Linked DNA regions of Homo sapiens: regions 1 and 3 are each linked to region 2. Evidence: fine-mapped expression QTL. A gene starts in region 2. Each other region holds a variant in brackets. All regions are shown on one strand. Distances are between the middles of the regions. Region 1 has its middle 220 kb from the start of GHITM. Region 2 holds the start of GHITM (growth hormone inducible transmembrane protein). Region 3 has its middle 20 kb from the start of LINC02650.

Evidence for each region.
Region 1: its variant is fine-mapped to the expression of GHITM in breast (GTEx, PIP 0.96).
Region 3: its variant is fine-mapped to the expression of GHITM in whole blood (TwinsUK, PIP 0.95).

Annotation. Positions count from the first base shown.
Region 1 is chr10:83,918,606-83,926,791 of GRCh38, forward strand. No RefSeq gene overlaps it. Among named protein-coding and RNA genes, the nearest start is that of GHITM, 220 kb to the right of the region's middle. The variant C/T (reference allele first, on the strand shown) is at 5,044.
Region 2 is chr10:84,134,943-84,143,128 of GRCh38, forward strand. It overlaps GHITM (growth hormone inducible transmembrane protein), which reads left to right and starts at 4,567. Exons shown (of 9, transcript NM_014394.3): 1 at 4,567-4,651; 2 at 6,520-6,687; 3 at 7,713-7,812. The coding sequence starts at 6,559. RefSeq lists enhancers at 3,935-4,504, 4,505-5,074 and a silencer at 4,648-4,847.
Region 3 is chr10:83,693,301-83,701,486 of GRCh38, forward strand. No RefSeq gene overlaps it. Among named protein-coding and RNA genes, the nearest start is that of LINC02650, 20 kb to the left of the region's middle. RefSeq lists an enhancer at 8,082-8,186. The variant C/T (reference allele first, on the strand shown) is at 4,870.

The DNA.
Region 1 (8,186 bases), 220 kb before region 2:
TAATCCCAGCTTCTCAGGAGGCTGAGGCAGGAGAATCACTTGAACCCAGGAGGCGGAGGTTGCAGTGAGCTAAGATCACGCCACTGCACTCCAGCCTGGGCAACAGTACAAGACTTCATCTCAAAAAAAAAAAAAATGCAGACTCAAAATTGCTACATGAAGTGCCTAGGCTGATAAACAAAGCTGAAACTCTCAGTTAATATTTATTGTGGACTTAATATTTATGTCCCCCCAAAGTCTATATGTTGAAATCTAATCCCCAATGCGATAGTATACGGAAGTGGGACCCTTGAGAGATAATTAGGTCATTATGCTGGAGCCCACATAATGGGACTGGTTTCCTTATAAAGGGATGAATGGCCCAGAGATCTGTTTCTACCCTGTGACGACATGGCCACCATGAGAAGACGGCCATCTAGGAACCATGAAGCAAGCCCTCACCAGACACAGAATCTTCCAGCACTTTGATCTTGGACTTCCCAGTCTCCACTGTGAGACATAAATAGTCTTTATTTAAGTCTATGGTATTTTTATTACAGCAGGCCAAACTGACTAAGGCAATGTCTCAACATATTATACCGCAACACAATTGTTACCAGAAAGCACTGCTCTAACCTAGTAGTACAGGAAACAGAATGATCCTAAAATTTATCTATTCCTAAGTGTTTCCAGAAATAGTGGGTCTAAAAGACACTCACCAGATAAATGATTTAGCTATCAAATGAGTTTCTCTTGAGAAGCCTATCCTAGAATCTCAGTGCATGTTATTGTTTTAAAAGCTCTGAGAAGGCCTGCAATAAGAACACCACTGAACTTTATTTAGCCCAGTGGTTCCCAGATTATTTGGCCCTAGAGAACTCTTTTCAATTAATATTCATTAACGTTGGACAGAATATGGAACACACTTGGGAAAATACCGCTCTAAGAAAAACTTCCAGGCCAGGTGTGGTAGCTCATGTCTGTAATCCCAGCACTTAGGGAGGGCGAAGCAGGCATATCACTTGAGCCCAGGAGTTCAAGACCAGCCTGGGCAACAAAGGGGGTCCTTTTCTCTGCAAAAAAATACAAAAATTAGCTGGGTGTGATGGCACATGCTTGTAGTCCCAGCTACTTGGGAGGCTGAAGTGAGAGGATCACCTGAGCCCAGAGAGGTCGAGGCTATAGTGAGCCATGATCTTACCACTGAACTCCAGCCTGGGCAACAGAGTTGAGACTTTGTCTCAAAAAAAAAATAAAAATAAAAAACTTTACAGATCAAAAGATTTACACACTGCCTTCTGCTCTCAGTAAGGTCTCAGCAGGAAATTAATAAAAAAAGAAAGCTAAGTGTAACCTATTTATTGAATGAGCTGGACTTAGCACAGTGCAAGAAGAAACAAATTTTTCCCTTTTCATCTGATCTCTTCTATACTTGCTCAGCCAAACAATACATCTCTGTCCCTGAATAAAATCCCAGGGAGATGCCAGCACTTTCTCAACCAGTCTCAGGAATTAGCAAGCATCCTTATGTTCAGGGGCAAAAAAGGCCAATCAATTTGAATACCAAAACTTAAATCTCTCATCCAATTTAAAACTTTTCGCCCCAGACCACTGTATTAGAGACCAGAGAGAAAGTCCATGGTGGGAAAGTCTTTGGAAGGTTTGAGGTTTTTGTTTGTTTGTTTTGCCTTCTACTAAACTGTTCTCACAGGCTTTTTGATTCTTCCTCCCATGGACCACGTTGCTACTGGTTCTTCTGAGGGTGGGAAAGAGAGAAGAGCAATGAGAGAAGTGAAGAAAGTCAAAGTGTCTTTTATGCCTGGTGCTATCTCTGGTCTTTTCTGGGTTTTTTAATTCCCTTAGTCATGGCAAACACCCAATTATTGGCTCCTTTGTCCTGTGGGGGCATTTTGGGAGATTCTTCAAAGACCCTCAATGCCAGAGGTGAGATCTCCCATCTGCAGATTGCTGGCATGGATATTGCCTCTTTGAGCTCACCAGTAGAATGAAGCCTTAAGCTCCTGGTATAGGCAATCCACAAGGGAGGGGTCACCTCACCCCTCAAGGCCAGAATTTTGGGTGAAGAACCTTTCAGCATATCCACAGTCTGTCTCATTTCCCAGTGAGCCACATCTGCAGCTCATTCCCACTCCTATCTCCTTGCACAGCCATCTGGGACAACCCCAGAAAGCCTCCCACCTGTAAGTTTTTTCCAATTGTAAGTTAGGTTTCAGCCTCTACAGTCTCCAACATCCAGTGTCCTCTTTATGATTGTTTGAAGCTCCTCTTCTCTTGACTTGGTAATAGAGAAAAACTCCCTTTTGGGAGTGGGCAATGCCCAGCTCATTGGCACCTCTGTGGGGTTTGAGTTCCTAGGAAATAGACCCTGAATTAAAGATTTTTAATATGGATATTTATTGGTGAATGACTCACATAAGGAAGTAAAGGAGAAACACAAAGGGAAATCTTCATAACTTTGATCTAGGCAAAGATTTTTTTGGATATGAACCCAAAAGCACAGGTAACAAAAGCAAAAATATCAAATGGGATTGCATAAAATGAAAAGGCTTCTGCACAGCAAAAGAAACAACCAACAGAGTGAACAGACTATCTATAGAACAGAGGCAATATTTGTAAATCACACATCTGATAAGGGGTTAATATCCAAAATACATAAGGAACTCAACTAAGGGGTTAATATCCAAAATACGTAAAGAACTCAAACAACTCAATAGCAAGAAAACAAAAAACCCAATTTAAAAATTGGCAAAGAACCTGAAAAGATATTTCTATACAAATGGCCAAGTATATTTTTTAAATATTCAACATCACTAAACATCAAGGAAATGCAAAATAAAACCACAATGAGATGTCGCTTCACACCTGTTAGAATGGTTATTATCAAAAAGACAAGAGATAACAAATGTTGAAGAGGATGTGGGAAAAAGAGAATATTGGCACATGGTTGGTGGGAATGTAAATTAAGGCAGACATTATGAAAACACAGTACAGAGGTCCCTCAAAATATTAAAAATAGAACTACCATATGACCCAGGAATTCCACGTTTGGGTATATAATCAAAGGAAATGAAATCGGTTTGTAGAAAAGATACTGCACTCCCATGTTCACTGCAGCATTATTCACAATAGCCAAGATATAGAATCAACCTAAGTGTCCATCAATGGATAAATGGGTAAAGAAAATTTATACACAACATTATACACAACAGATTACAATTTGGCCTTAAAAAAGAAGGAAATCCTGTCATCTGCAACAACATGGGTAAACCTGGAGGTCAAGTCAGTATTCCAAGTGAAATAAGCCAGCCACAGAAAGACAAATACTGCATAATCTCATTTATATTTGGATTCTTAAAAAGGAAGGTAAGAATGGGGAGATGTGGGTCAAAGGATACAAAATTTCAGTTAGATGGGAAGTATAAGTTCAGAAGATCTTTGGTACAACATGGTGATTATAGTTAATAACAGTGTACTGCATATTTTGTAGAGATGGATCTCACTGTGTTGCCCAAGCTGTTCTCAAACTTCTAGGCTCAAGTGATCCTTCTGCCTCAGCCTCTCAGAGTGCTGGGATTATAGGTGTATGCCATACTGCCTGGCCACAACATATTGTATATTTGCAAATTGTGGAGTAGAATTTAAATGTTTCCACTACAAAGAAAGATAAGTGTGTGCACATGTTGATTTGCTTGATTTAGTCATTCCAAAATGTATACATACATCATATCAACATGCTGTACATTATAAATATGTACAATTTTAAAAAGTGAATTAAATTTTAGAAAAAGAAGTGAAAGAGCAGGATTGGGCAAAGGGAGAATCATATTTCTGTGCAGTTGCATCATCTTTCAGCTGATCTCCCAAGGAGCTCTCAAACTGGATTTTTCCCACACAAAGGCCACGGAAACAGGTCTCTGTACACCTTCATCCACCAGTCCTGGCTGCAGGCTGTCCGCAGAGAGGAGACATAAACTTGAACAAGGAAGCTCCCTCCATCCAAAGGAGTCCCCAGAGAAGGATGCTGCTGTGAAGGAAGCTGGGGGACTGAGTGCCTTGGTCCTGAAGGGGGCCTGAGTGGTGCACCCCAGCACAGCACCAACAATATTTCCCACTGCATGTCAAAAATGGGGAAGGCCCATTTAACAGCCTCCTCCAAAAAACACGCACTTTTTTGTATTGTGCTGATTTGTGTTGTAGTTTGCCTCTTGTGAAGAGGAACATCAGGTACTTGTTAAGCTGATCAGTTAACAACAGCGCAATCCCCAGGAAGATTGCTAATGTGTACTTGTTCTTTCCTGGTTCTTCTCTTCATTGTCTGTGTCCTATTTTGAGCAGCTCACATCACCCCTCTAGTCTCAGTTTCCTTAACTATAAAACAGGATGAGAAAAACTATGCTTCCTGCCTCTCTTTATCTGTGGTGGGATATTCATGAGATGACTGATACCCTCAAAGCAAGGGCTTTGGAATCCGCTACAGAGAGATCAAGCCTTCTTCAAAGTACTAACATGAAATTGGTAGGCGTGCTGAGCTTTTTCTGGATAAGCCCCATTAAGGTTTGGTGATCAGGCATCCTAAAAAATAGCACTGATAAAAGAACTTTTTCAGAGACAGTCTTCATTCCTGCTTGGGTCAGGGAGGAATGGGGGTTGCGTGTGTACCACCTTGAGGGCTAAGGGCTGAATATTGAAGGCTGCATCTCAGGAAAGGGGGCATCAGATGGGGCAGTGATGCTACCCAGCCCATCAAAAAGACTCTGTCACAGAAGAGCCAGCATGATGGCTTAGCTTCAACTCTGCTATTCATGAGGATGTGAGACTTTGTAAGTCACTCCTGTACTGGAATCCATTCCGTATCTGTGAAATGAAAGCATGATCCCGGGCCAGGATTTTCAAACTCTTTTAATAACAGTACTCTGTTTCAATTGGAAATTTTTTTCAAACCCTAGTACAGTAGTCCCCCTTTATCTTTGGGGGGTAGATTCCAAGACTTCCAGTAGATGCCTGAAGCTGCAGATAATACCAAACCCTATGTTTTTTCCTATA[C/T]ATACTTATGATTACATTTATTTTACTAATTAGGCACAGATAGAGAGTAGCAACAATAACTAATAATAAAGTAGAACCATTATAACTATACACTGTAATAAAAGTTATGTGAATGTGCACTCTCTCTCTCTCTCAATATCTTATTGTACTGTACCCTGAGTAACCGAAACTGTGGAAACCAAAACCATGGGTAAGGGGAAACTAGTGTATATGAAGGCATTACAGAGGTTCCTCATGATGTTTAATTGTAGGCTAATAATGCAAAATTTTCTCCAAATTTTGTAAAAGTCATTTGAAGCACATTAATGCAATCATTCACTCAAAAAATAGTTCCCACATGTCTTCCATGTGCCAGGCACAGTAATAGACAGGGTATTCAATAATGTGCTACAGGCTGGACACCCAGCACAGTTTCTGACCTCCTAGAATGTATAGCCAGTTGGGTGAGCCAGACAAGACATAGGCAATTACAATGCAGTATGATAAGTGCTCCAACAGGAGGATTTTACAGCCTGTCAGAGAGGATTTGAACCCAGCATTGGCAATGTGGAGGAGTCGTGGCTGATGTTTCAGAAACACTGGATCTAAAGGATGTGTTAGAGTTAACTAGCCACTGAAGAGAGGAGAACCTTCCGGGTAGAAAGCATTCCATGTACAGAAGGCCAGAATTGAAAGACAGTGACGCATTTGAAGAGCTGAATAAAGATCAGTGGGAAATGAAAGGAAATCAGTGAGAGCAGGAGATGGGGCCTGGGAATTAAGCACTTTATACACCAGAAAAGGTCAGTTGTGAAATACCAAGAAAGCTGGACTTCATCCTAAGTGCCATGAGAAGCCACTGATGGATTTAAGCAATGTTTAAGAGTCTAGGTGACCTCCCAGGGTGCTCTCATCACTAATGCTTGCAATAACAGACTTCATTAAGCCCAACCAAGAAATTCTTCCACATTAATTGGGCCATTCAGCAAATATTTGCTAAATGTAATTTAAACGTGATTATTTAAATCACAAAGATTTAGCGACACACCTTTTAGGGAAAAAGAGATAAAGGTAAACATTTCTGGCAGAAAACCCAATTTATATTTCTCAAAGAGCAGCATCACGTCTCCAGTAGGAGAGAAAAGGAAAGCAGAAGATTAAGATGGGTACACCTAAGAAAAAGGGCACTGGTGCCTAAAACTAAGCAGGTAAAGACTGGGATACTGTGAGTCTAAGAAACAAAAGACAGCAGAAGAGCAAGAGAACTGCAAAGCACTCAACAGGAAGATCGATTGGGAAGCTGAAGGCAGGGCAGCTAAGAAGATGAGCACCCAGCCCCCAAAGACTGGACCAGAGAATGAGGGCTCTAAGACAAGCTGGGCAGTGTCTCCAGTAGGAATTAAGCCTCCTAGGAGACAGTAAAAATCTTTCATTCAAAAGATGAGCCACTAGCACCCCAACTTTGGTCGACTATTACATTGTTAGTCTCAAAAAAAAAAACAAAAAACAAAACCTACTTCTCATCTTTTATACCCTTGCAGAATAACCTCCCAATTTGGGCTTGGCCATGTCACTCGCTTTGGCTAATGGAACATTAGCAGGGTTAATGCAGAGGCTTCAACTCTTGGAATGCCCTCTCTCAAAACCCAGTTCCCCTGCTGTGAGGAAATTCAGGCAACCCTGTTGGAGAAAAGGACCACGTGGAGAGGCTCTGAAGGATGACATTGTGTGGAGAAAGAAGCGACAGGAAAGGGAAACTTGGTGCCCCAGCTGAGCTCCCAGCTGAACGCAGGTGCCTGAAGCAGCCCAGCCAAGGTGACATAGAGCAGAAACAGCCAAGGCAGCCTCAGAATCATGAGTCATAATAAATTGTTGTCATTTTAAGTCGCTAAATTTTGCAGTAGTTTGTCATGTGGAAAAACTACAAGAAAAAAATGGAAAATAAGGGGCATGTGGGGTTGAAACCAGAAGATTATACCTATGAGTTTCAGAAATAGCATTTAGAGAGAATTGGCGGGGGAAGTGGGGACTGTGAAGTAATCAAAGAAATAAAAAGAAAAATTCTCGTAATTGAAAAAAGATTATATTCATATTAAAGTTGCTCACCGAAGACTAAGCAGTTTAGAAAGAAAAAACACACCTAGAACACAATGGTCATATTTCAGATATTTAGATATAGATACAAATATATGTATTTATTTACATATATAAATAAATATAAATTCCTCAAAAAATTCCACAGATTTTTTCAAACTCACCCAGAGTGGAATGAAAATCAGACTGGCATTAGATTTCTCATTGGAAGAATTTTATACCAAAAACAAAATAGTAATAAACAGGAATAAACAGGCAAATCTTCAAAATTCTGAGGAAAGTTATTTTGAACCTAAAATTCTATATCCAGCCAAACTAATATTGAAGAAGGAAGTAAAACATAGATATATCTGGACAGGCAAGGATCCATAAATGTTATCTCCTCACAGAATATCTCTGAAAGAACTGAGTATATACTAGAAATATGAAGACAAATTTTAAAAATTATGTGAAATATAAGAAATAAATGAAAACGAATCACTAAAACTTGTAGTTAAGTATAAATAACCATTGATCCAAAATGTGGGGAAAAAAGAGTTAACAAATAACTGTATGAAACTGAAATCCTGGGTAATCTCAAATGAAATATGAGGCTAGGAAGAGAAGGAAGAAAAATATCATGTTAGGGAGGGATTGTCGGGGAGTTAAAGATTCTGAAGGACACAGCTCCAAAATGGGGAAAATTAGGCAAAGAACACTTGATCAAGTCAGGGGAGTTAAAAGGGAGCAGGAGAAAAAATGACAGACAGAAAAAACAAGGTGGCAGAATGAGTTTAAACTTTGGAAATCATAATACAGTTTTTTGACTGGCTTTATTTCCATTAACTCATTGGTTGGGTTTAAAAAAAACATCCAGCTATATATGTTGCTAATGTGACACACTGAAAAGAAAAAGAGACAGGATGTTAAAAACAAAGACACAAAAGATGTACATATCAAGCAAATGCTAATGGGTTTGTCCATCTGGGGATTGTGTTCAATGATGTAGCAGGAAGTGGCACTGGAATGTCAATTTGGGCCAGCATTTTGATTTCGTCATAGCTGTTGTCAAAACACTTGGGTATATTGAC
Region 2 (8,186 bases):
AGAGGGTAACACCAAAAATTTTTCTGATGAGCCTGATATCAGAGTGAATCACAGAAATCCTGTATTCTAGGCCAGTGCTCCTCAGCCTTTTTTTATTATTGCTTCCCTAGGAATTCATTTCAGATGCTTTTGCCTGATTCCCTCCCCCATGACATCTTAATGTCATAGCTTTACTAGCACATGTGCTGTCTGCATATCCATGCATTATATATTAAAAGAGAGATTTTTTTTAATCCCTCAAGCACCAGCTTTTGCCTCCATCGCATGTTCTAGACCCAGATCTACCATTTACCTTGCTATGTTTTTGATATAGTTTGTATATTTGTCCCCACCCAAATCTCATGTTGAACTATAATTCCCGTTATTGGAGGAGGGGCCTGGACAGAAGTGACTGGATCATGGGAGTGGATTTCTCTTGAATGGATTAGCACTATCCCCTTGGTGCTGTCCTTGAGATAGTGAGTTCTCAGGAGATCTGGTCATTTAAAAGTGTTTGGCCCTTCCCCGCCAACTCTCTCTCTCTTGCTCTTCCTTTTGCCATGTGATGTACCTGCCCCTCTTTGCCTTCTGCCATGATTGGAAGCTTCCTGAAGCCTCCCCAGAATCAGATGCCACTATGCTTCCTGTATAGCCTGCAGAATCATGGGCCAATTAAACCTCTTTTCTTATAAAATACCCAGCCTCGGGTATTTCTTTATAGCAGTGCAAGAACAACCTAATACCTTTTTCTTAAGAAAAGCTACTACAATTTCTGAGTGTTGGTTTCCTCTTGGAAGACTGACCAGAAAGCATGACACTAGTCTCAATTTTCTGCCAATATCTGTCCCTCCACAGATACTACCCCACTAATGACCTTGTCCTTTGGCCCACTTACAGCATTTAGTTGCACATATGTGAGGGGTATATATTGTCAGTTAGGTGAATGCAAAATTGAGCTACATTTTTCTTTAAACTGCCATCGATGTCATTTTCAAGGCCCCAGTCAGTTTAGAGCAGACAGCCTATTTATTCCATTTTGCAAGCTCAGAACAGTCTGACAATTTGTCTGTCAGTTTCAGGATTTATTACCATCAGTCACATTGGAGTTCAAAGTCCTTTCTCCTCTCCTGGGCCACAACTGGATTAGAAACATTTACATTAAACAGGAGGGGAAAAAGTGTAGCTTCTCTGTCCTTCCACTCTACCTCTTAGTCATTGCATTGTCATGCAGCTGCCGTTCAGCAAAATCTAAAGGGAGTAGTCCCCATGGCTTCATTGTCTTTCTGTGGCTGGCAGGATATAACTTTTGAAGTTGGCACAGTTTGATCTCTCACCCAAGCAGAGTCAAATGGCTCTGCCTTGTCATACACTAAATGGTCTGTTGGTGCCCATCTGGGCATCTCACCCACACATACTTCTAGTGTCGCCTCACTACTGAGCAGCATCTCGAAGGGTGCAAACAAGCAGGTGCGTGCTCACAATCACATTCTTGTGTTTATCTAGACCTTAGGGATTCCAAGGGAAAACAAGGCCAAGATGGGGAAGATCTTGTAACTTTCCTACCTGCTCTGTTGTCTGCCACTTAGCAACCACATGAGAAGCAGGTGCCAATTGGTCCCTACATTCAGAAACATCTGCAACCTTTCAGGAAGAAGCACCTTCCCTTTGTTGGGAGACTCCATCAGGGAGGGCAGAGGTTAAAGCCCCAGCAAACTCCCTTTCCAACTCTGTTTCATTCATACCACATCTTCTGATGGGAAAGCATAGTAGGGCAAGGTGAGAGCATTTATTTTAACTGAAAGTAAATAAAATATTTTATCTTTTGTCCTGGCTCTGAGTTTTCTCCACTATAATGCAGCATATCTCACTTAGCCAGCAAGTGGAGAATAAGGAATTCATCAGCAGACTGTAATAAAAACCGTGACATATATATAGTATTGGAATTTACGAATCATGTCTTTTCCTTTTTATTTACTTATTTATTCTTTTATTTTTTATTTTTTATTTTTTTGAAGTGGAGTCTCGCTCTGTTGCCCAGGCTGGAATGCAGTGGCACGATCTCGGCTCACTGCAAGCTCCACCTCCTGGGTTCATGCCATTCTCCTGCCTCAGCCTCCCGAGCAGCTGGGACTACAGGTGCCCACCGCCATGCTCTGCTAATTTTTTTTTTTTTTTTTTTTTTTTTTGGTATTTTTAGTAGAGACGGGGTTTCACCATGTTAGCCAGGATGGTCTCAATCTCCTGACCTTGTGATCTACCCGCCTCGGCCTCCCAAAGTGCTGGGATTACAGGCGTGAGCCACCACACACAGCCTACTTATTTATTTTTAAAGACAGCATCACCCTATGTTGCCCAGGCCGGCCTTAAGCTCCTGGGCTACCTCCCCAGTAACTGGGACTACATGCATGTGCCACCATTCCCGGCTTGTCCTTTTCTCTATCCTACACTCTAAGAACTTAGAAGCAGAGAACTTAACAATTAAACACTTCAAACTAAGTTTTATGTATCTACTTCCCCTCACTTGTATCTCTCCCTGTATCCTATTGCTAAATTAATGATAAAATTATCCACCCAGTTCAGAAGGATTACTCAGGGAGCCTTCCTCATTCTTATCAGCTATATTTGACCGACCATTCAATCCTGCAAACTCCACTTCAGCAATATATCTCTGTCATAAACCCCTCTGTGTCTTTCTACTGGCTTAATTCCAGCCTTTATTGCCTTTTGGTTGAACAACTACAATAAATTCCTAATTGGTCTCCTGGTCCATGGAACCTCTCCCTTCCTACACTGCCACAAGAGCATATATTTCCCAATGATATGACCAGATTCCTCCCCTGCTTCAAAATATTTGACCCCTGTGGAAACAACAATACAAGCCCTTTACTTGAGAAAGGAAAATATGAAATCAGACATTTTTCTTCCAATATGGAGAGAATAAGCTTTAATAGGAATCTTGAAGAAAGCTTGAGTCATTGACTTCAAGATCTTTATTCTGGTACTGTGTTGTAAATCCTTTCTCTTTGCTGATAACAGAAGCTCTAGAAAAAAAGACTATCACTGAAGGAGCCAAACAGAAAACCTATTTGCTAGCTAATAAAATTGGGCATAGATCAAAATAAAAATTAAACTGATCATGCTTGATCTGTTCAGTTTCGTGAGATTTCTCTAGTGTTTTCCTGCCATTTTCAGCGTAAAGAGATAAGAATTGTGTTGCTGCCAGACTCTTTTATTATCCACATAGAAGGCAAGTCTTTATATTTGTCAAGGTTTACATGATTAGGAATCATAAATCACAATTAACTACTGCTTAGGAGATAAAGGTTCATGAATTTTGCATGTTGTTAATCACCTTATCACCCTTTCAGGGTTTTAATCTGCTCTTTCTTCATGGTATTAAGTTATCACATTATATTTTTTCTATGTTCTGTCTCTACCAGAAAGTAAAGCCACAGAGCAAGGACTTTATTTTGTTAAAATAGTGGTAGCACACACGGGTTTAATTCATTTGCTGTTTTTTTGTTTTTGTTTTTTTGGTTTCTTTTTTTTTTGAGACTGAGTCTCCCTCTATCGCCCAGGCTGGAGTGCAGTTGCGGGATCTGGGCTCACTGGAACCTCCGCCTCCTGGGTTCAAGTGATTCTCCTGCCTTAGCTTCCCAAGTAGCTTAGATTACAGGCACCAATCACGCCTGGCAAATTTTTGTATTTTTAGTAGAGACAGGGTTTCCCCACGTTGGCCAGGCTGGTCTCGAACTCCTAACCTCAAGTGATCCACCCGCCGCGGCCTCCCAAAGTACTGGGATTACAGGCTTGAGCCACCACGCCCGGCTGATTCATTTGTATATATTTCTAGAACAGAGCTTGGTACGAAGTTGAGCATTCAGTAAATATCTGTTGAAATAGAGGGAGAGTGAAAAAGAAAGTAACTCTCTCGCGTATTCCACAACTAGCTCTTCACCTATCAAATTACGCGCAATGGAAACATCTTAGTCCTCAGAGCAATCCTGGGTGCAAGGCAGAGGCGGCTGTTATCAGGCCTATTACACAGGTTTAGGGTGAAACTTGAAAATGTGGGCGGGAAAGTCACAAAGCAATGAAAAAACCATCTAGAAAAAATCTTTTCTGGATGTCACCATCTAACATTTGGCATGAGACCCCAGAAACCGGATGACTCGGCTCAGAAGCAGACACATTTGAAAAGATATTTATCTCACGATAAATTAAGGGACAAAAAGGCCTTCAAAAAGGAACGGAATAAACGGAATAATTTTTAACTCTAACATTACTTTCTTTCAATTTTTACATAATTCTTATAGCTGCGGCGAGTGAAACGACTAAAACAAAAGCAAAACAGAGCTCCACTGCCCAAAACAAAGATGGCCGAGACGACTCCCATGCCCACACGCAAAATGGACGCTGACTATGACGTTCCCTGCAACAATCCTCAACTGGCCCCGCCCCACCAATTTGGAACCCCGCCTCCTCAACCCGGAACCCCGCCTCCCCCAGTGTGGCCGCTTTTCCGACAGAGGCCTGCCCGTGATTGGCTGCTCGTACTATTTACGTCCTTTCGATGTTGCGTCATGCAGTGCGCCGGAGGAACTGTGCTCTTTGAGGCCGACGCTAGGGGCCCGGAAGGGAAACTGCGAGGCGAAGGTGACCGGGGACCGAGGTACTGCTCCGGCTGGCCGGCGGGCGCCCGGGATCCCCGGTGGTCCTGACAGCCGCCCTCACGGGACCGCTGGGTGCGGGGGGAAGGGCTGGAAGCAGCGGTGCTGCTGGCTGCGTCAGGGCCGGCCTGCGCGTTGGGGTCGCAGTCCTGTGGGTGACCTGGTGGAGAGGGCGGCGGCACAAGGCCCTGGTCAGGCGGGCAAGGGCTCAGTGTAGCTGTGCTTCTGTCCTCGGGCAACAAGGTGCTGAGTCATCCTTGCGGCGAGGCCGTACAGCCGCTGCGCTGGTAGCGGCACCTGGGGCAGGGGCAGAGGTGTTGTGGGTTGACAGGGAAGTTTGCTGCCGGGTTCTCATCTGAATCTAGCGGGCTGGGTGAACTTTCTCGGGGACCAGGCACCCAAACTCATCAATGCTCACGGAGGCATAAGCCCTTGGATTAGGGTCGGTAGTATTTTCCCCATTTTATAGCAACGACATCTGAGTCTTAGAGATCCACACTCCTCACAAGGTCACTTCTAACCTGTCAGAAGCGGGATTCCCACTCTGGGCTGTTACGCCACATGGAGGTCACTCTGAGCTGGACCTCTTCGGCCCCAACCAGTGGACTGAGTACTGAGGAAGATACAGGACAGCCATAGGTTGAGATGATGTAATGGCACGAAAGTTCCAAAAGCGCTGGGTGTTTTCCCAAAGGCCGGGTGCCGAATTTTAAGACCCTTAATAGTTCAGTTGCAGAGCTCGGAGGACGCTCGGGTATCTTAAAGCAATAGTTCTTAGCTTTTGGAGTGTTCGTTAAAACACACGTTCTTGGTCTTATTCCTAGGGGTAGAATCATTAGGAGCAAAGAAAGACCCAGGAGCCTACATTTTAAGATGCATCCGGGGCACTTTCAAGCAGGTAGTCTAAGGGTCAACGCTGTAGTCTGAACACGGAATCCTTATGTTACAGATGGGGAAATGGGCCCAGAAGTATATCACTTGCCTAGAATTCACTACAAATCATTGGCAGAGATGGGCTGGTAGCCCCAGTTGGTTTACACTCGTCATTTCATTCTGACCTATTGTAGTCACCTCACCTTAGCATTACAGAAACACTGTCTGCTGACTTCTGGTTGACCACCCATCTAGTATAATGTGCCCTGGAGCTAAGATAATCCAGTTTTTAGCATGCTTTTCTTTTGAAGACACCATCGAGGGAGTCTAATGTAAGGGAAACCTGGTTGGTAACTGAGTTTACTTGTTTACTTTGAAAGACTAAATGTCCTTTACGCATTATAGTAGGACATATAGAATAGGTTAACTTAGAATATTTTTATATCTCATGTTGAAGGAAAGTAATATTTGGTATGATTAGCTGAAATTCATATAGTTGGCTTCTTTTAATACCTTTTAGCTTTGTAATGCAGTATAACCTTGAAGAGCTATTCATGTCTTCTTTGGATGACACTATTCCTTTGCCCAAAAGTTATGTAGATTCTTTTAAATTTTCCCACTGGATGCTGGTATAAATCTTAAGCCAAAACTACATTTGTAAAAACCATCACAGACTCTGTAATCACGTCCAGTTATTAACAGCCGTTCTGTGTTACACATAATTTTTGCAGTCATCTATTTTGATTGGTCAAACTGGGACTTAAACCTAGTTTGTTCCTCCATCTTCAGCTGTGTTCTCTGGGATGGGTTTCTTGCATTACAGTGGATGGTTGGGCAAAGAATTCATCGCTGAAAATTAAAAAGGTCGCTTTATTTCCTGTTCTACTAAAAAATAGTTTGTTCCTTGACTCTGACTCTCATATGTCCTTCTCTTAATTGGTTAGTAGGTTGTTTTACTTATGTTTTTTTGGTTGGTTTTGCCTTTTTTTTAAACTAGCATTTCAGATCTGCTCGGTAGACCTGGTGCACCACCACCATGTTGGCTGCAAGGCTGGTGTGTCTCCGGACACTACCTTCTAGGGTTTTCCACCCAGCTTTCACCAAGGCCTCCCCTGTTGTGAAGAATTCCATCACGAAGAATCAATGGCTGTTAACACCTAGCAGGGTAAAGATAATCTGAATGTTTTTATATTGCTTCTTTTTCCATTTGTGCCCTTTCTTTTTGGCAGAGTATGGCTGCTCTGCCTTTAGTGTGTTATACGTCAGTTAGCCCTGATAATATCCCCAATCAGCTCTTTCTCCCCATTAGTTTGTATCATTCTGGTCCCTCCTTATCCCATATGAAATAGAAAATGAGTTTCTGTAACTCTGTCTTCGCTTACAGCTTCTGGAGTTTCTCATTTAGAAAATTTAGAGTACATTGTGAGGGATTGAGAGTTACATAGTGTAACGGAGATCCTGGAGCACATAGTCAGAAGTTTAAGAACCCAGGGATATTACCAGTTGGCCAATAGCTTATTAATAAATTACTAAATATATTATCTCTTATTTAGAGGTTGATAATATCTGTCAGGTTAGAAAGAAACCCATTTTTATAATAGATTTATCTTCTGGCATTCAGATTATAAGGTTTGAAGTGTGAGGTAATGAGGACAATATAAAGAAGCTAGGAGACATTTTCTCTTTTAAATTAACTGTTCCACTGTTGAAAAAGAGCCACAATGGAAGTAGTAGTCTTCCCTCTTCTTGGCTTCATGTTAAGGAAAGATGCTGTTCTTGAGTCCATATCCCAGATGACAAAATATAGCTAATAATGCTTGTAGAATGCATATCTTAAAAATGCTAACAGATTCTCACCCTGGTATTTGGTTAGGATTTAAAATATAACAATTCTAGGTATGTAAATCTATAGTTTGTGAAAGAAACAATTTTTCTGAAATTGAAACTAAGAATAATATAATGAATTACTAACTTCCAAAGGTGGAGCACAGGGAAGGTCTACATTTATTTATTTATTTTTACATTTAGTTTTTTAAGTTGGCTAATAAATTTCCATAGTGAAGTTAGGTATATAGAAAGTACCAAGTTTCTTTAACTAGAGTTTTCTAGTGTAAAGGGATCTTGCATTTTATTTTATTAACGTTCTGTTTTCATGTGGGTGGTACGTGTCTTTGTTTGCATGTGTGTCAGGAATATGCCACCAAAACAAGAATTGGGATCCGGCGTGGGAGAACTGGCCAAGAACTCAAAGAGGCAGCATTGGAACCATCGATGGAAAAAATATTTAAAAGTAGGTGGCTATCTTTAGTTTTTAACCTAGAATCTATGGATATGTTTTAAGAGGTCCATGAACAACTTCCTAAAAATATATGTGTATTTGTGCATTTTCTGGGAAGACCACATTATTATTCTGAGATCTGACGACCCAGAAAAGATTGGTACTTTGCACTGGATTCAGTGGTTATCAATCATATTTCTTCCAGTGGAAATTTTACTTTCCTTTTTTTTAAAGAAAAGGATTATTAATATGCCATGGTCCAAAAGGTATACTCTGTTGAGAAAGTTCATTTTAAGTGTGTAGAATCCTCATTCAAGCATATAATATTTGTGTATGTTTCAGATTAAGAATAAATCACCAACACATAGATGTTAATAAAAGCCTAG
Region 3 (8,186 bases), 440 kb before region 2:
ATGTGTGGCAGTTAGAACATAGTTTATCCTTTAAGTGTAGGAGTGAGTGACTTAACCCTCGCCTGCCATGGCCTTAGGTCTTGTCTCTAATTTTGGTATCTTAATGCTACAATGAGTCCGTTTTGTCAGTCTTATGATCTCTGGTTTAACATTAACGCTGGTCAGTTTTTGTGTCTAAACCATAAAAGGAGGAGGTATAATGAGCTGTGCCTGACCTCCCATCCTGTCATAGCTAGGAACTCAGTTTTCAGGTTTTTCTAGGGTCCCCTTGGCCACAGGGCATCCATTCAGTCGATGAGGGCTTAGGATTTTATTTTTAGTTTCGAGTCCTCATAACCAAGATGGGCCAATCGGAAGCTTATCTGTGAGTATTGAAATTTAAGGCTAAGTGAGATGTCATGCCTCTGTGTTTAGATAATACTGATATTTAAAATGCAGAAAGTGTGGGCCACTCTTCTTTTTTTTTAATGATGCAGACTTGGAAGTGAAGAAACTTGGTCTGCAGAGGAGATAAATAAGAAATATATATACAGAAAAACTGCAAGCCTCAATTCTAGTACTACATTCCTGCCCTTGGGTTTCAAGAGACACCCCTCTTTCATTATTGAACAAATTATCTCATTTATGCTGATTGAGGTAGTGTGAGATATTTTTATTTGTTATAAAAGAGAGCTAATAAATAGAAATATTATCACACTGAAAAACAAGTAGGTAGGTATTCTCAGCATGAGCATTACCTATGCTGATTCAAAATATCTGCTCCTTTAAATCTATAGCTTAGGTTCAAGTAGAGTTTTTTTCCCCATCTCAAAGATCTCTTTTTCTTACATGAAAACTTTAAGACTAGCTTATCATCTCTGTTTTGCAGTTTCCCTCTGAGACCAAAGGAGACAAAGGCAGTTATTTAGTTTTGTTTCATAACTGTCCTTCAAGATGTTGAAAATTGTAATTTGGCTTATTGACTTTTATCTTCTTGCAATTTGTTAACGTTTTCACTTGACTACATCTTACGCTACAGATGGGGAGAGAAAGCAGCACCAAGTCATTTTTCTAGTATTGCCTGTGAAGATCTTCCAGTAATTCTTATTCTCAAAAGAGCAAGCATTCTGGGCCACCTTCCCTTGGCAGAAGGAAGCAGAAGACACTTTTGTGGGCATTGCAGACAGCAGTGGAGGAAGTGGGCACATGATGTGCAGACTTGCCTTCCAAACCATGCTGATGTGATGGAGGTCGATCTGCCAGGCAGCAATTACACATTCACGGGGGAATCGATGCAGCTAAATTTACATTGACCTCAGCAAAATAGTTAGGAGTGGAGTAAATCCCTTCAGGCTCTTTTCCGGGGAAATGCAAATAGATGTAGACATGTATGTTCCTCAGAAAATCTTTTTCGGGAAACACATGGTTGGCCAGAAGATTATAGATGGATCCTGGGCCACATGGCATCTGCAAGTGTTTTGAGATCTTAATTTCTGTAGTTTAGTTTAAGCAGGAAAAGAGGTGGAACCTGTCATAAATAATAGTAACCTTAATATAAGTCAGTGAGCATTTTTTCACTTAATGTGTGCCAAGCATGGTGCTGTATTTATAATTAGTACAACTATAAGGAAAGGCATCATTATTATCATCTTATCTTATTGATGAGCAAACTGCAATTCAGGAAAGTTAAGTTGCAGAGTCTCACGTGTCAGAACTAGGACCTAACACAGGCAGTCTGATTCCAGTGCTCAGAGTTTGAGAGCACAATGTGAACTGTTTTTTTAATCATTCTTCAGACTATGAGGCACCTGCCAAGTTTTCAACCCTGAGGTCTAGGCAAAGGCTGTCAGAGAACCACACAACCAAGTGTAACCTGAGGAGTAGAAAGGAGACCTGGCATAAGGGACAGCATGTGGACAAACATGGTCAGTAGGCAGGAACAACAAATAGAACAGCTCAGTTCATGGTCGGCTGAGATCATGGAAAGCAAATGTGTCCAAGCCCCAACAAGGAATGCATGGGCCAGGCATGGGTGCATAAGAACATCTGCAGTGCTAGCTCTGTGTGCAGGAAAGGTACTCAGGCACCAGGGCTTTCCCAGACAGCAGGAGGAGTGAAGCATCATCACATCAGTGCATCTACTGCAGAGGGAGCACTGGCCTGCGTCAGAGCCCATGGTGCCCTTCCTCTGTGCCACTCTGTGTCCCTGTCCAGGCCTCATGGCTTTCTGAGCCTCTTTTCTATGCGAGAGGAGGAATCTCTATTTTGACTGCATTCATAGCCATGAATGAATCCAAGGAGAAGGGGCAGAGCTAACACTGGTTTGGGCTCCAAATCTCAGAATCTTTTGACCACAGTTCCCAGCATCATCCCATCACAGATGATTTAGCATCTGCCAAAAGCTTTGTAAACTGTCCCTTTTGGAGAATTTCTTGGACAGGGGAGAGTGACCACTTCATAGGCCACGGCTATATTCTTGCTACCCCAAAGGCTGCCCCTGCCCAGTCCTTAGCTGTGGGATGATAAATATACCCGAGTGGCTTTGCTTCTGTCATGCATCCTTCAGCCTAAATTCTCTCCTAGGGCAGAATGTTCTATGGTTTGTTCTCAATTTCTTCTCTCTTCCCTCACCTCAGCCTTTCCCCCATTTCTTAATTTTGGTTTGGTTTTCTGAAGAGCATCACTCCTCAGCTAGTTTATCTCAGCCCAGATTCCTTAGAATACTTACTAAGGTTTCTCAAAGCATTGGGTGCCTAAATACATGTCTTTTACAACTCACGTTGATCATTAGATAGTTCTGGTAGTTACTGGTTTTTCCCAATACTTGCCCATGGTGTTTTAACCCCCTAATAAAACAACTGGAAATCCCTAGATTTTATTTTTCATGGGCAGGTGGTTTGGGGAGACTTGGGATCTCCTGAAATTAAGACTCCTCTGATTCAACAATTATCTGAGAATCAAGAAAGAAGAAAGTGAAAAAAAAATGAGAATAATGAAACAGTTTAACATTTCTGAGGAATAGACTGGAGGTAATATGACATCTTTCAATTGGAGCTGGGAATCATTATTTGTTGGCCTGGCAAATTCAGTTCGGATTAATTGTGAAAAATGCCAGTTCGGAACAAGTTACTTGATTGAGTTGTTTAAATCACCCTTATCAAGAGTTGTTTGAGGACTGCCTAATCAGTCTACCATTAGAAGTATTTGCATGATCTAGAGCAACAGAAAAGAGGCCGCCCCAACTCCCATTTTGGAAGAAAGGTTTTGTTGTGGGTGGAAGGTTGGTTTTGGTTTTAATTTTGTTTTGGTTTTCTAAAGAGCATCCTAGAATTGAAGGACAATAACAGAGTTGATTCAATGGAGGCATGCAGTGTGATTTGCAGATGAAGGCCCTCATTAGAAACTTCCTGATTTTCTGCTCTGTGTAAATGTTTTCCGGTGAATAAACTTCAGAACGTCCATGTCGAAGCCTAGAAAGAGAATCTCTGGGGAAGAAGTGAGGGATGATCTTTGTCCATCTTTATGGTTCTTACCTTCTGCTTGTGAGGAAGGGTCTCTTCCTACAAAGTAAGGCTCCCCACCACCCTTTGCTTCCTGAATACGCTGCTTTGTCTCCAGAGCTCTGACTCAGGGACTTGGGAACTCGTTAGCATAGATGAGATGACCTGTTGTTTTCACAAGGCTTTCTTGAATTCTGGAGGTGATCAATAAAGGAGAAGGGACAAGGTGCTCCAACCCTCTGGTTCATCACACAAAGCCCCTCGGTATTGTCTCATCTTGCTTCTACCCGAGGCTCACAGTCGTGGTTAATTTATTCTGTCTCTTAAAATGTAAATATTGACCCCCAGAATCACCTGTACTTCCTGTGTTCTTTCCCTCCAGCTTCCAGCCTAACTTGCATGTGCGGACACCCAGCTAACACATGAGGTTGTTTTCCTAGCATTCTGACTTCCCTCATAGCCAAAAGAACATTCCAATCCTGATGTCCAATTCACCCTAGAGCCTCCCCTTCAAATCCCACTTCTGGTTGTAAGGACATGCCTTTTCGCCAGGACCCAGATTCCTTGAATGAGCTCTCTCTACAGGCAGGACTTGCTCTTCACCCAGGGACATAGACTTTCCCTTGTAAAGCCATTCTGAGATATAAGTATCATTACTGTATGCACTTTACAAATCAATACACTGAGGAATAAATAGATTAAATGATTTTTTCAAAGTCACACATCTCACAAAGGATAGAGCCGGGATTTGAATCCAGATGAATTTGAGCACTAAGCCACGGTTATTCTTTGCTGTTTTCAGCAGTTTCAAGATTCTAATGCACATCTTATAATTCATGAAAAAAACAATCTCTCATAACTAACTCCAACCCTGCACTAATATATTTTGAAGCAGGCAACTTTTATTTATTAAGATCTCCAGATAAACCTGTTTAGGTTTGCTATTTATTACTGTACTTCTTGCTCTGAAATGGGACTGGCTGGTAACTTGAAAAATGAATGGAAAATTGTGTCGTTGTGCTCTGACTGGTTAAAATCCCTCCTTCTGGGCTGAAATGCTAGTGTACACTCTCAGTTCTTGTAGGCATTTATTCTGGAATTATTGTGCAGACCATTAAGTTTGGGGGTTTTCTCAGTCTTTGCAATTTCATAAGCTGTAGAGGCTCCATTGACCACAGAAGGCTGAGTAGTAAATGGATATGTATTGTGAATGGAATGCTTTTTGCTAAAAGAATCCCTGTAGAGAAAAGCAAAAAAAGGAGAATGTCAAACTTGATTCAGACCAACTAAGATCCTGTGAGCCCTCTGTTCAACTTTACAATATCTGCTAATGTCCCTTCTTTTCCAGAGTAGCTGTCAACTCCACCTTAAGATCACCCTGAGGAATGCT[C/T]GGTTCCCCTAAGACAGGCCTGGGGAGTGCCTAGGTCCTTTACACCTTACCTAGGTCCTTCCTAAGACCTCAGCTCCTCTGCTTCCTCAGGTCTACATAGCTGCCTATTCCTTGCTAACTCCTTGCTGCCTGTTTTTCTCTGTAACACCTTCAGACTGGCCCTTTAAATTACCATTTCTTTCTTTCTATGGCTGGACTTTTTAGCATTAATTCATGACAAGCTCACTGTAGGCAGGAGGCTGGCCCTTTACTTCCCATCCCTCAGCTCTCTCTTTTCTATGCTGGTCTCCATGGATTTCTCCCCCGCTACTTGTGTTTGGGCATAATCTATTGCCAAACTTTGGTAAGAAGCACTGACTTCCCTGAAGCAACCTCGCTAAAAGGACCCCTACGGTGTGTCCGGTCATAGGAACAAGGGTTTCTGACCTTTACGGCTCTCTTCAAGGCAGTCATTCTACCAGTGTGTTCATGTATATGTGTATACGTATGCAAGCATGTGTGTATGCGTGTGTATGTTATATGGATGCATGCATGCACGCATGCATGTGTAATGTGTGCATGTGTAAAAGTACATGTGTGTCTGAGTGCATACATGTGAGCACACGTACATAAGAGTGTGTTTGTGTGCCCATGTGCAGAGGTAGGGAAGACAGAGTGAGTGGGTGAACCCTTGACCAACTTTTCATCAACATGACTTGGTCAATCTTGGAGAAGCTCCTTGGGAAGCTTGTGGCACCAACACCTGAAATGCAGGAAGCTGGTTCAGAAAGTACTTGTAGGACAGAAAGAAACACATCAGAAGCAATTACTGGTGATTCAAGAGATGGTGGGAGATTAGAAAATTGCCAGCATCCTGGCATTTGCAAGGGTCACCAAGGGACAGTGAGTGAAAAACAAATATTTTTCAAGTTGTTTGGCAGCACTTTATCCCACTCGCTGGTGGATGTGGGGAGAAAGGGAAAGCAACCTCTCAGACACACTTACGTCCTCTGTGTGCCTCAGCAAGACTCATTTCAATTCTTTCTGGACACATGTTTGGAGTCACTTAAGGGGCAGTGGATGCAGCAACTGTAGTTCACTTCCCTAGTTCAAACTTTAGAGAGACCCTGAAGACATACCCTGATTTTCTTTGTTCAGCATGAATGTTAAAATCAAAAAGCTATGGACATTTCCAGGAAAAGCCAGCTGAAATATCAAATCAGCTGAAAATTCACAAATCCGGAAAACTAGAAATTGTCTCTATTTAAATGTATAAATACATTTTTTAAATAAAATGTAATGAGAAAACATAAAATGTCTGATCACAAACAATTATAAATGTAAGCTTACCCACAACTGCTCTCTGAGACGCATTTTTGCATCTCCCTGCCTCTTTCTCCTCCCTGCCTCCACCCTACACACCCACAGGCACATACTCATCAGTGCTCTGGGCCACACTGGTCTTTTTTCTACTCCATAGATATGTCCTGCACCCTCCTTTCTCAGGGGCCTTGCTGTCACTCTTCCATCTGCCTGGAATTATCTCCTCATTCTCCTTTTTTAGCTGACTATTGACCTCTGCACATTTCTTTAGCACACATCCTCCTGCAGAGAACTCACTCATTTGTGGTGTGATGATATCAGAATTTCTGGACTGATATTCAGATGTATACAGCTTCTTTACATGTATGAGCTTCTTTATTTTCTTGTGCTGAAGATCTCATTCTAGCTGATTGAAGGTGGAGTTTAAAATGTGACTAAAATTGTCTTGGTTCCTTTAAGTTTTGAACATTCTCTTTTTGATAAACTCAAAATCACATGATCTGAAAGACCAAAACAGATAACCCTTTGTCAACTAAGATGGACCCTAAGGTTGAGAAAACAAGGTTCCTATAGGTCGAGGGTTCAGGGCCCAGCTGGCAAGGCAAATTTCTACATTCTTAGGGTTTTAAATTCCCTAACAATAGGAATTATCAGACCCGTCCTAACTCTGACTTACAACCCAGGTCACTACAATTCTAACTGGACAGAGGACCAGCCTTAGAAACATTCTTTTCTGATAAGCAATTGCAGACTTTAAACCAGTTTCAGCAGCGTATAGAGGCTGTGCACAAATGATCTTTGTGTCATAAAGAATTCCACCCTATTTTAAGCAAAACCCTGCTCCAAAGTAAACATAGGATATATGTTACATGCATGTTTACTCACTGTGCCTGTGTTCGACTCCCCTCATAAATATGTACAGCTTTTCCCCCAAACCAACTAAATATATTTAATACCAACTTGTGAGCCATAAAACCCAAACTCCTTCCCTTCTTTGAAGACAGAGTACCTTTGATATACAATGGAAACTGTCCCTTCCCAGCCTGCAAACTAATATCACCAATAAAGCTCTTTTCTGCTATTTACCTATCCTGCTCATCTTTTGGATGACATTCAAATTATGTAAGTTTTTATTAGGTCTTTTTCTTCTCTCTTAAATGTATTCCCCCTCCCCCAGCCCTACCTAATAAGGTGTTTAGAGGTAGAAGAAGGTTTACATGTCCCCAAGGAACAAAGAAACCCAAAAGGTGATGTTAATGGAGTTAAAAAGAAATTATTTAGGCAGATAATGAGTGTAAGAAAGTCCTCGGTAAGGTTTTACTTTTAGTGAAAAGTAGCCCCCAAATTATTTTGTTATTATTATTATTTCTTTTTCTTGAGACAGAGTTTCACTCTTGTTGCCCAGGCTGGAGTGCAGTGGCGTGATCTCAGCTCACTGCAACCTCCACCTCCCGGGTTCAAGCAATTCTCCTGCCTCAGCCCCCTGAGTAGCTGGGATTACAGGCACATGCCACCATGCCCAGCTAATTTTTGTATTTTTAGTAAAGATGGAGTTTAAAAGCAGCCTTAAAAATCAAGCTGCAGACATAGTTGGAAGCTTGTACGGATGAAAACTGGCAGCTGTGCCCATAGAAGGCTACCTGGGGGCCAGCATGTTCAACCTGATGGCTCCATCTTCCCTTTTCTTTGTCAACCACGTGTACAGTAAGGAAGACAACATGGCCCAGGAAAGGTAGAGATCCCATTTGCATAGTAAAAGATTATGGTGGGATGGCCAGCTTCTTCACATGCTATGCAAATGTCACAACTGGTCCAACCAATTTCTCAGGCCCTATATAAATCAGACATTACTTCTTCAAGCTTGTCTGTAAAACCCCATGCATTCCACCATGAAACTGGAAGACCCACTTGGGAGCTCCTCTCTCTCTGTAGGAGAGAGAGCTATTCTTTGTTCTCTTTCTTTCGCCTATTATGCCTCCACTTTCAAAGTCACTACTTGTGCGTCCACGTCGTTG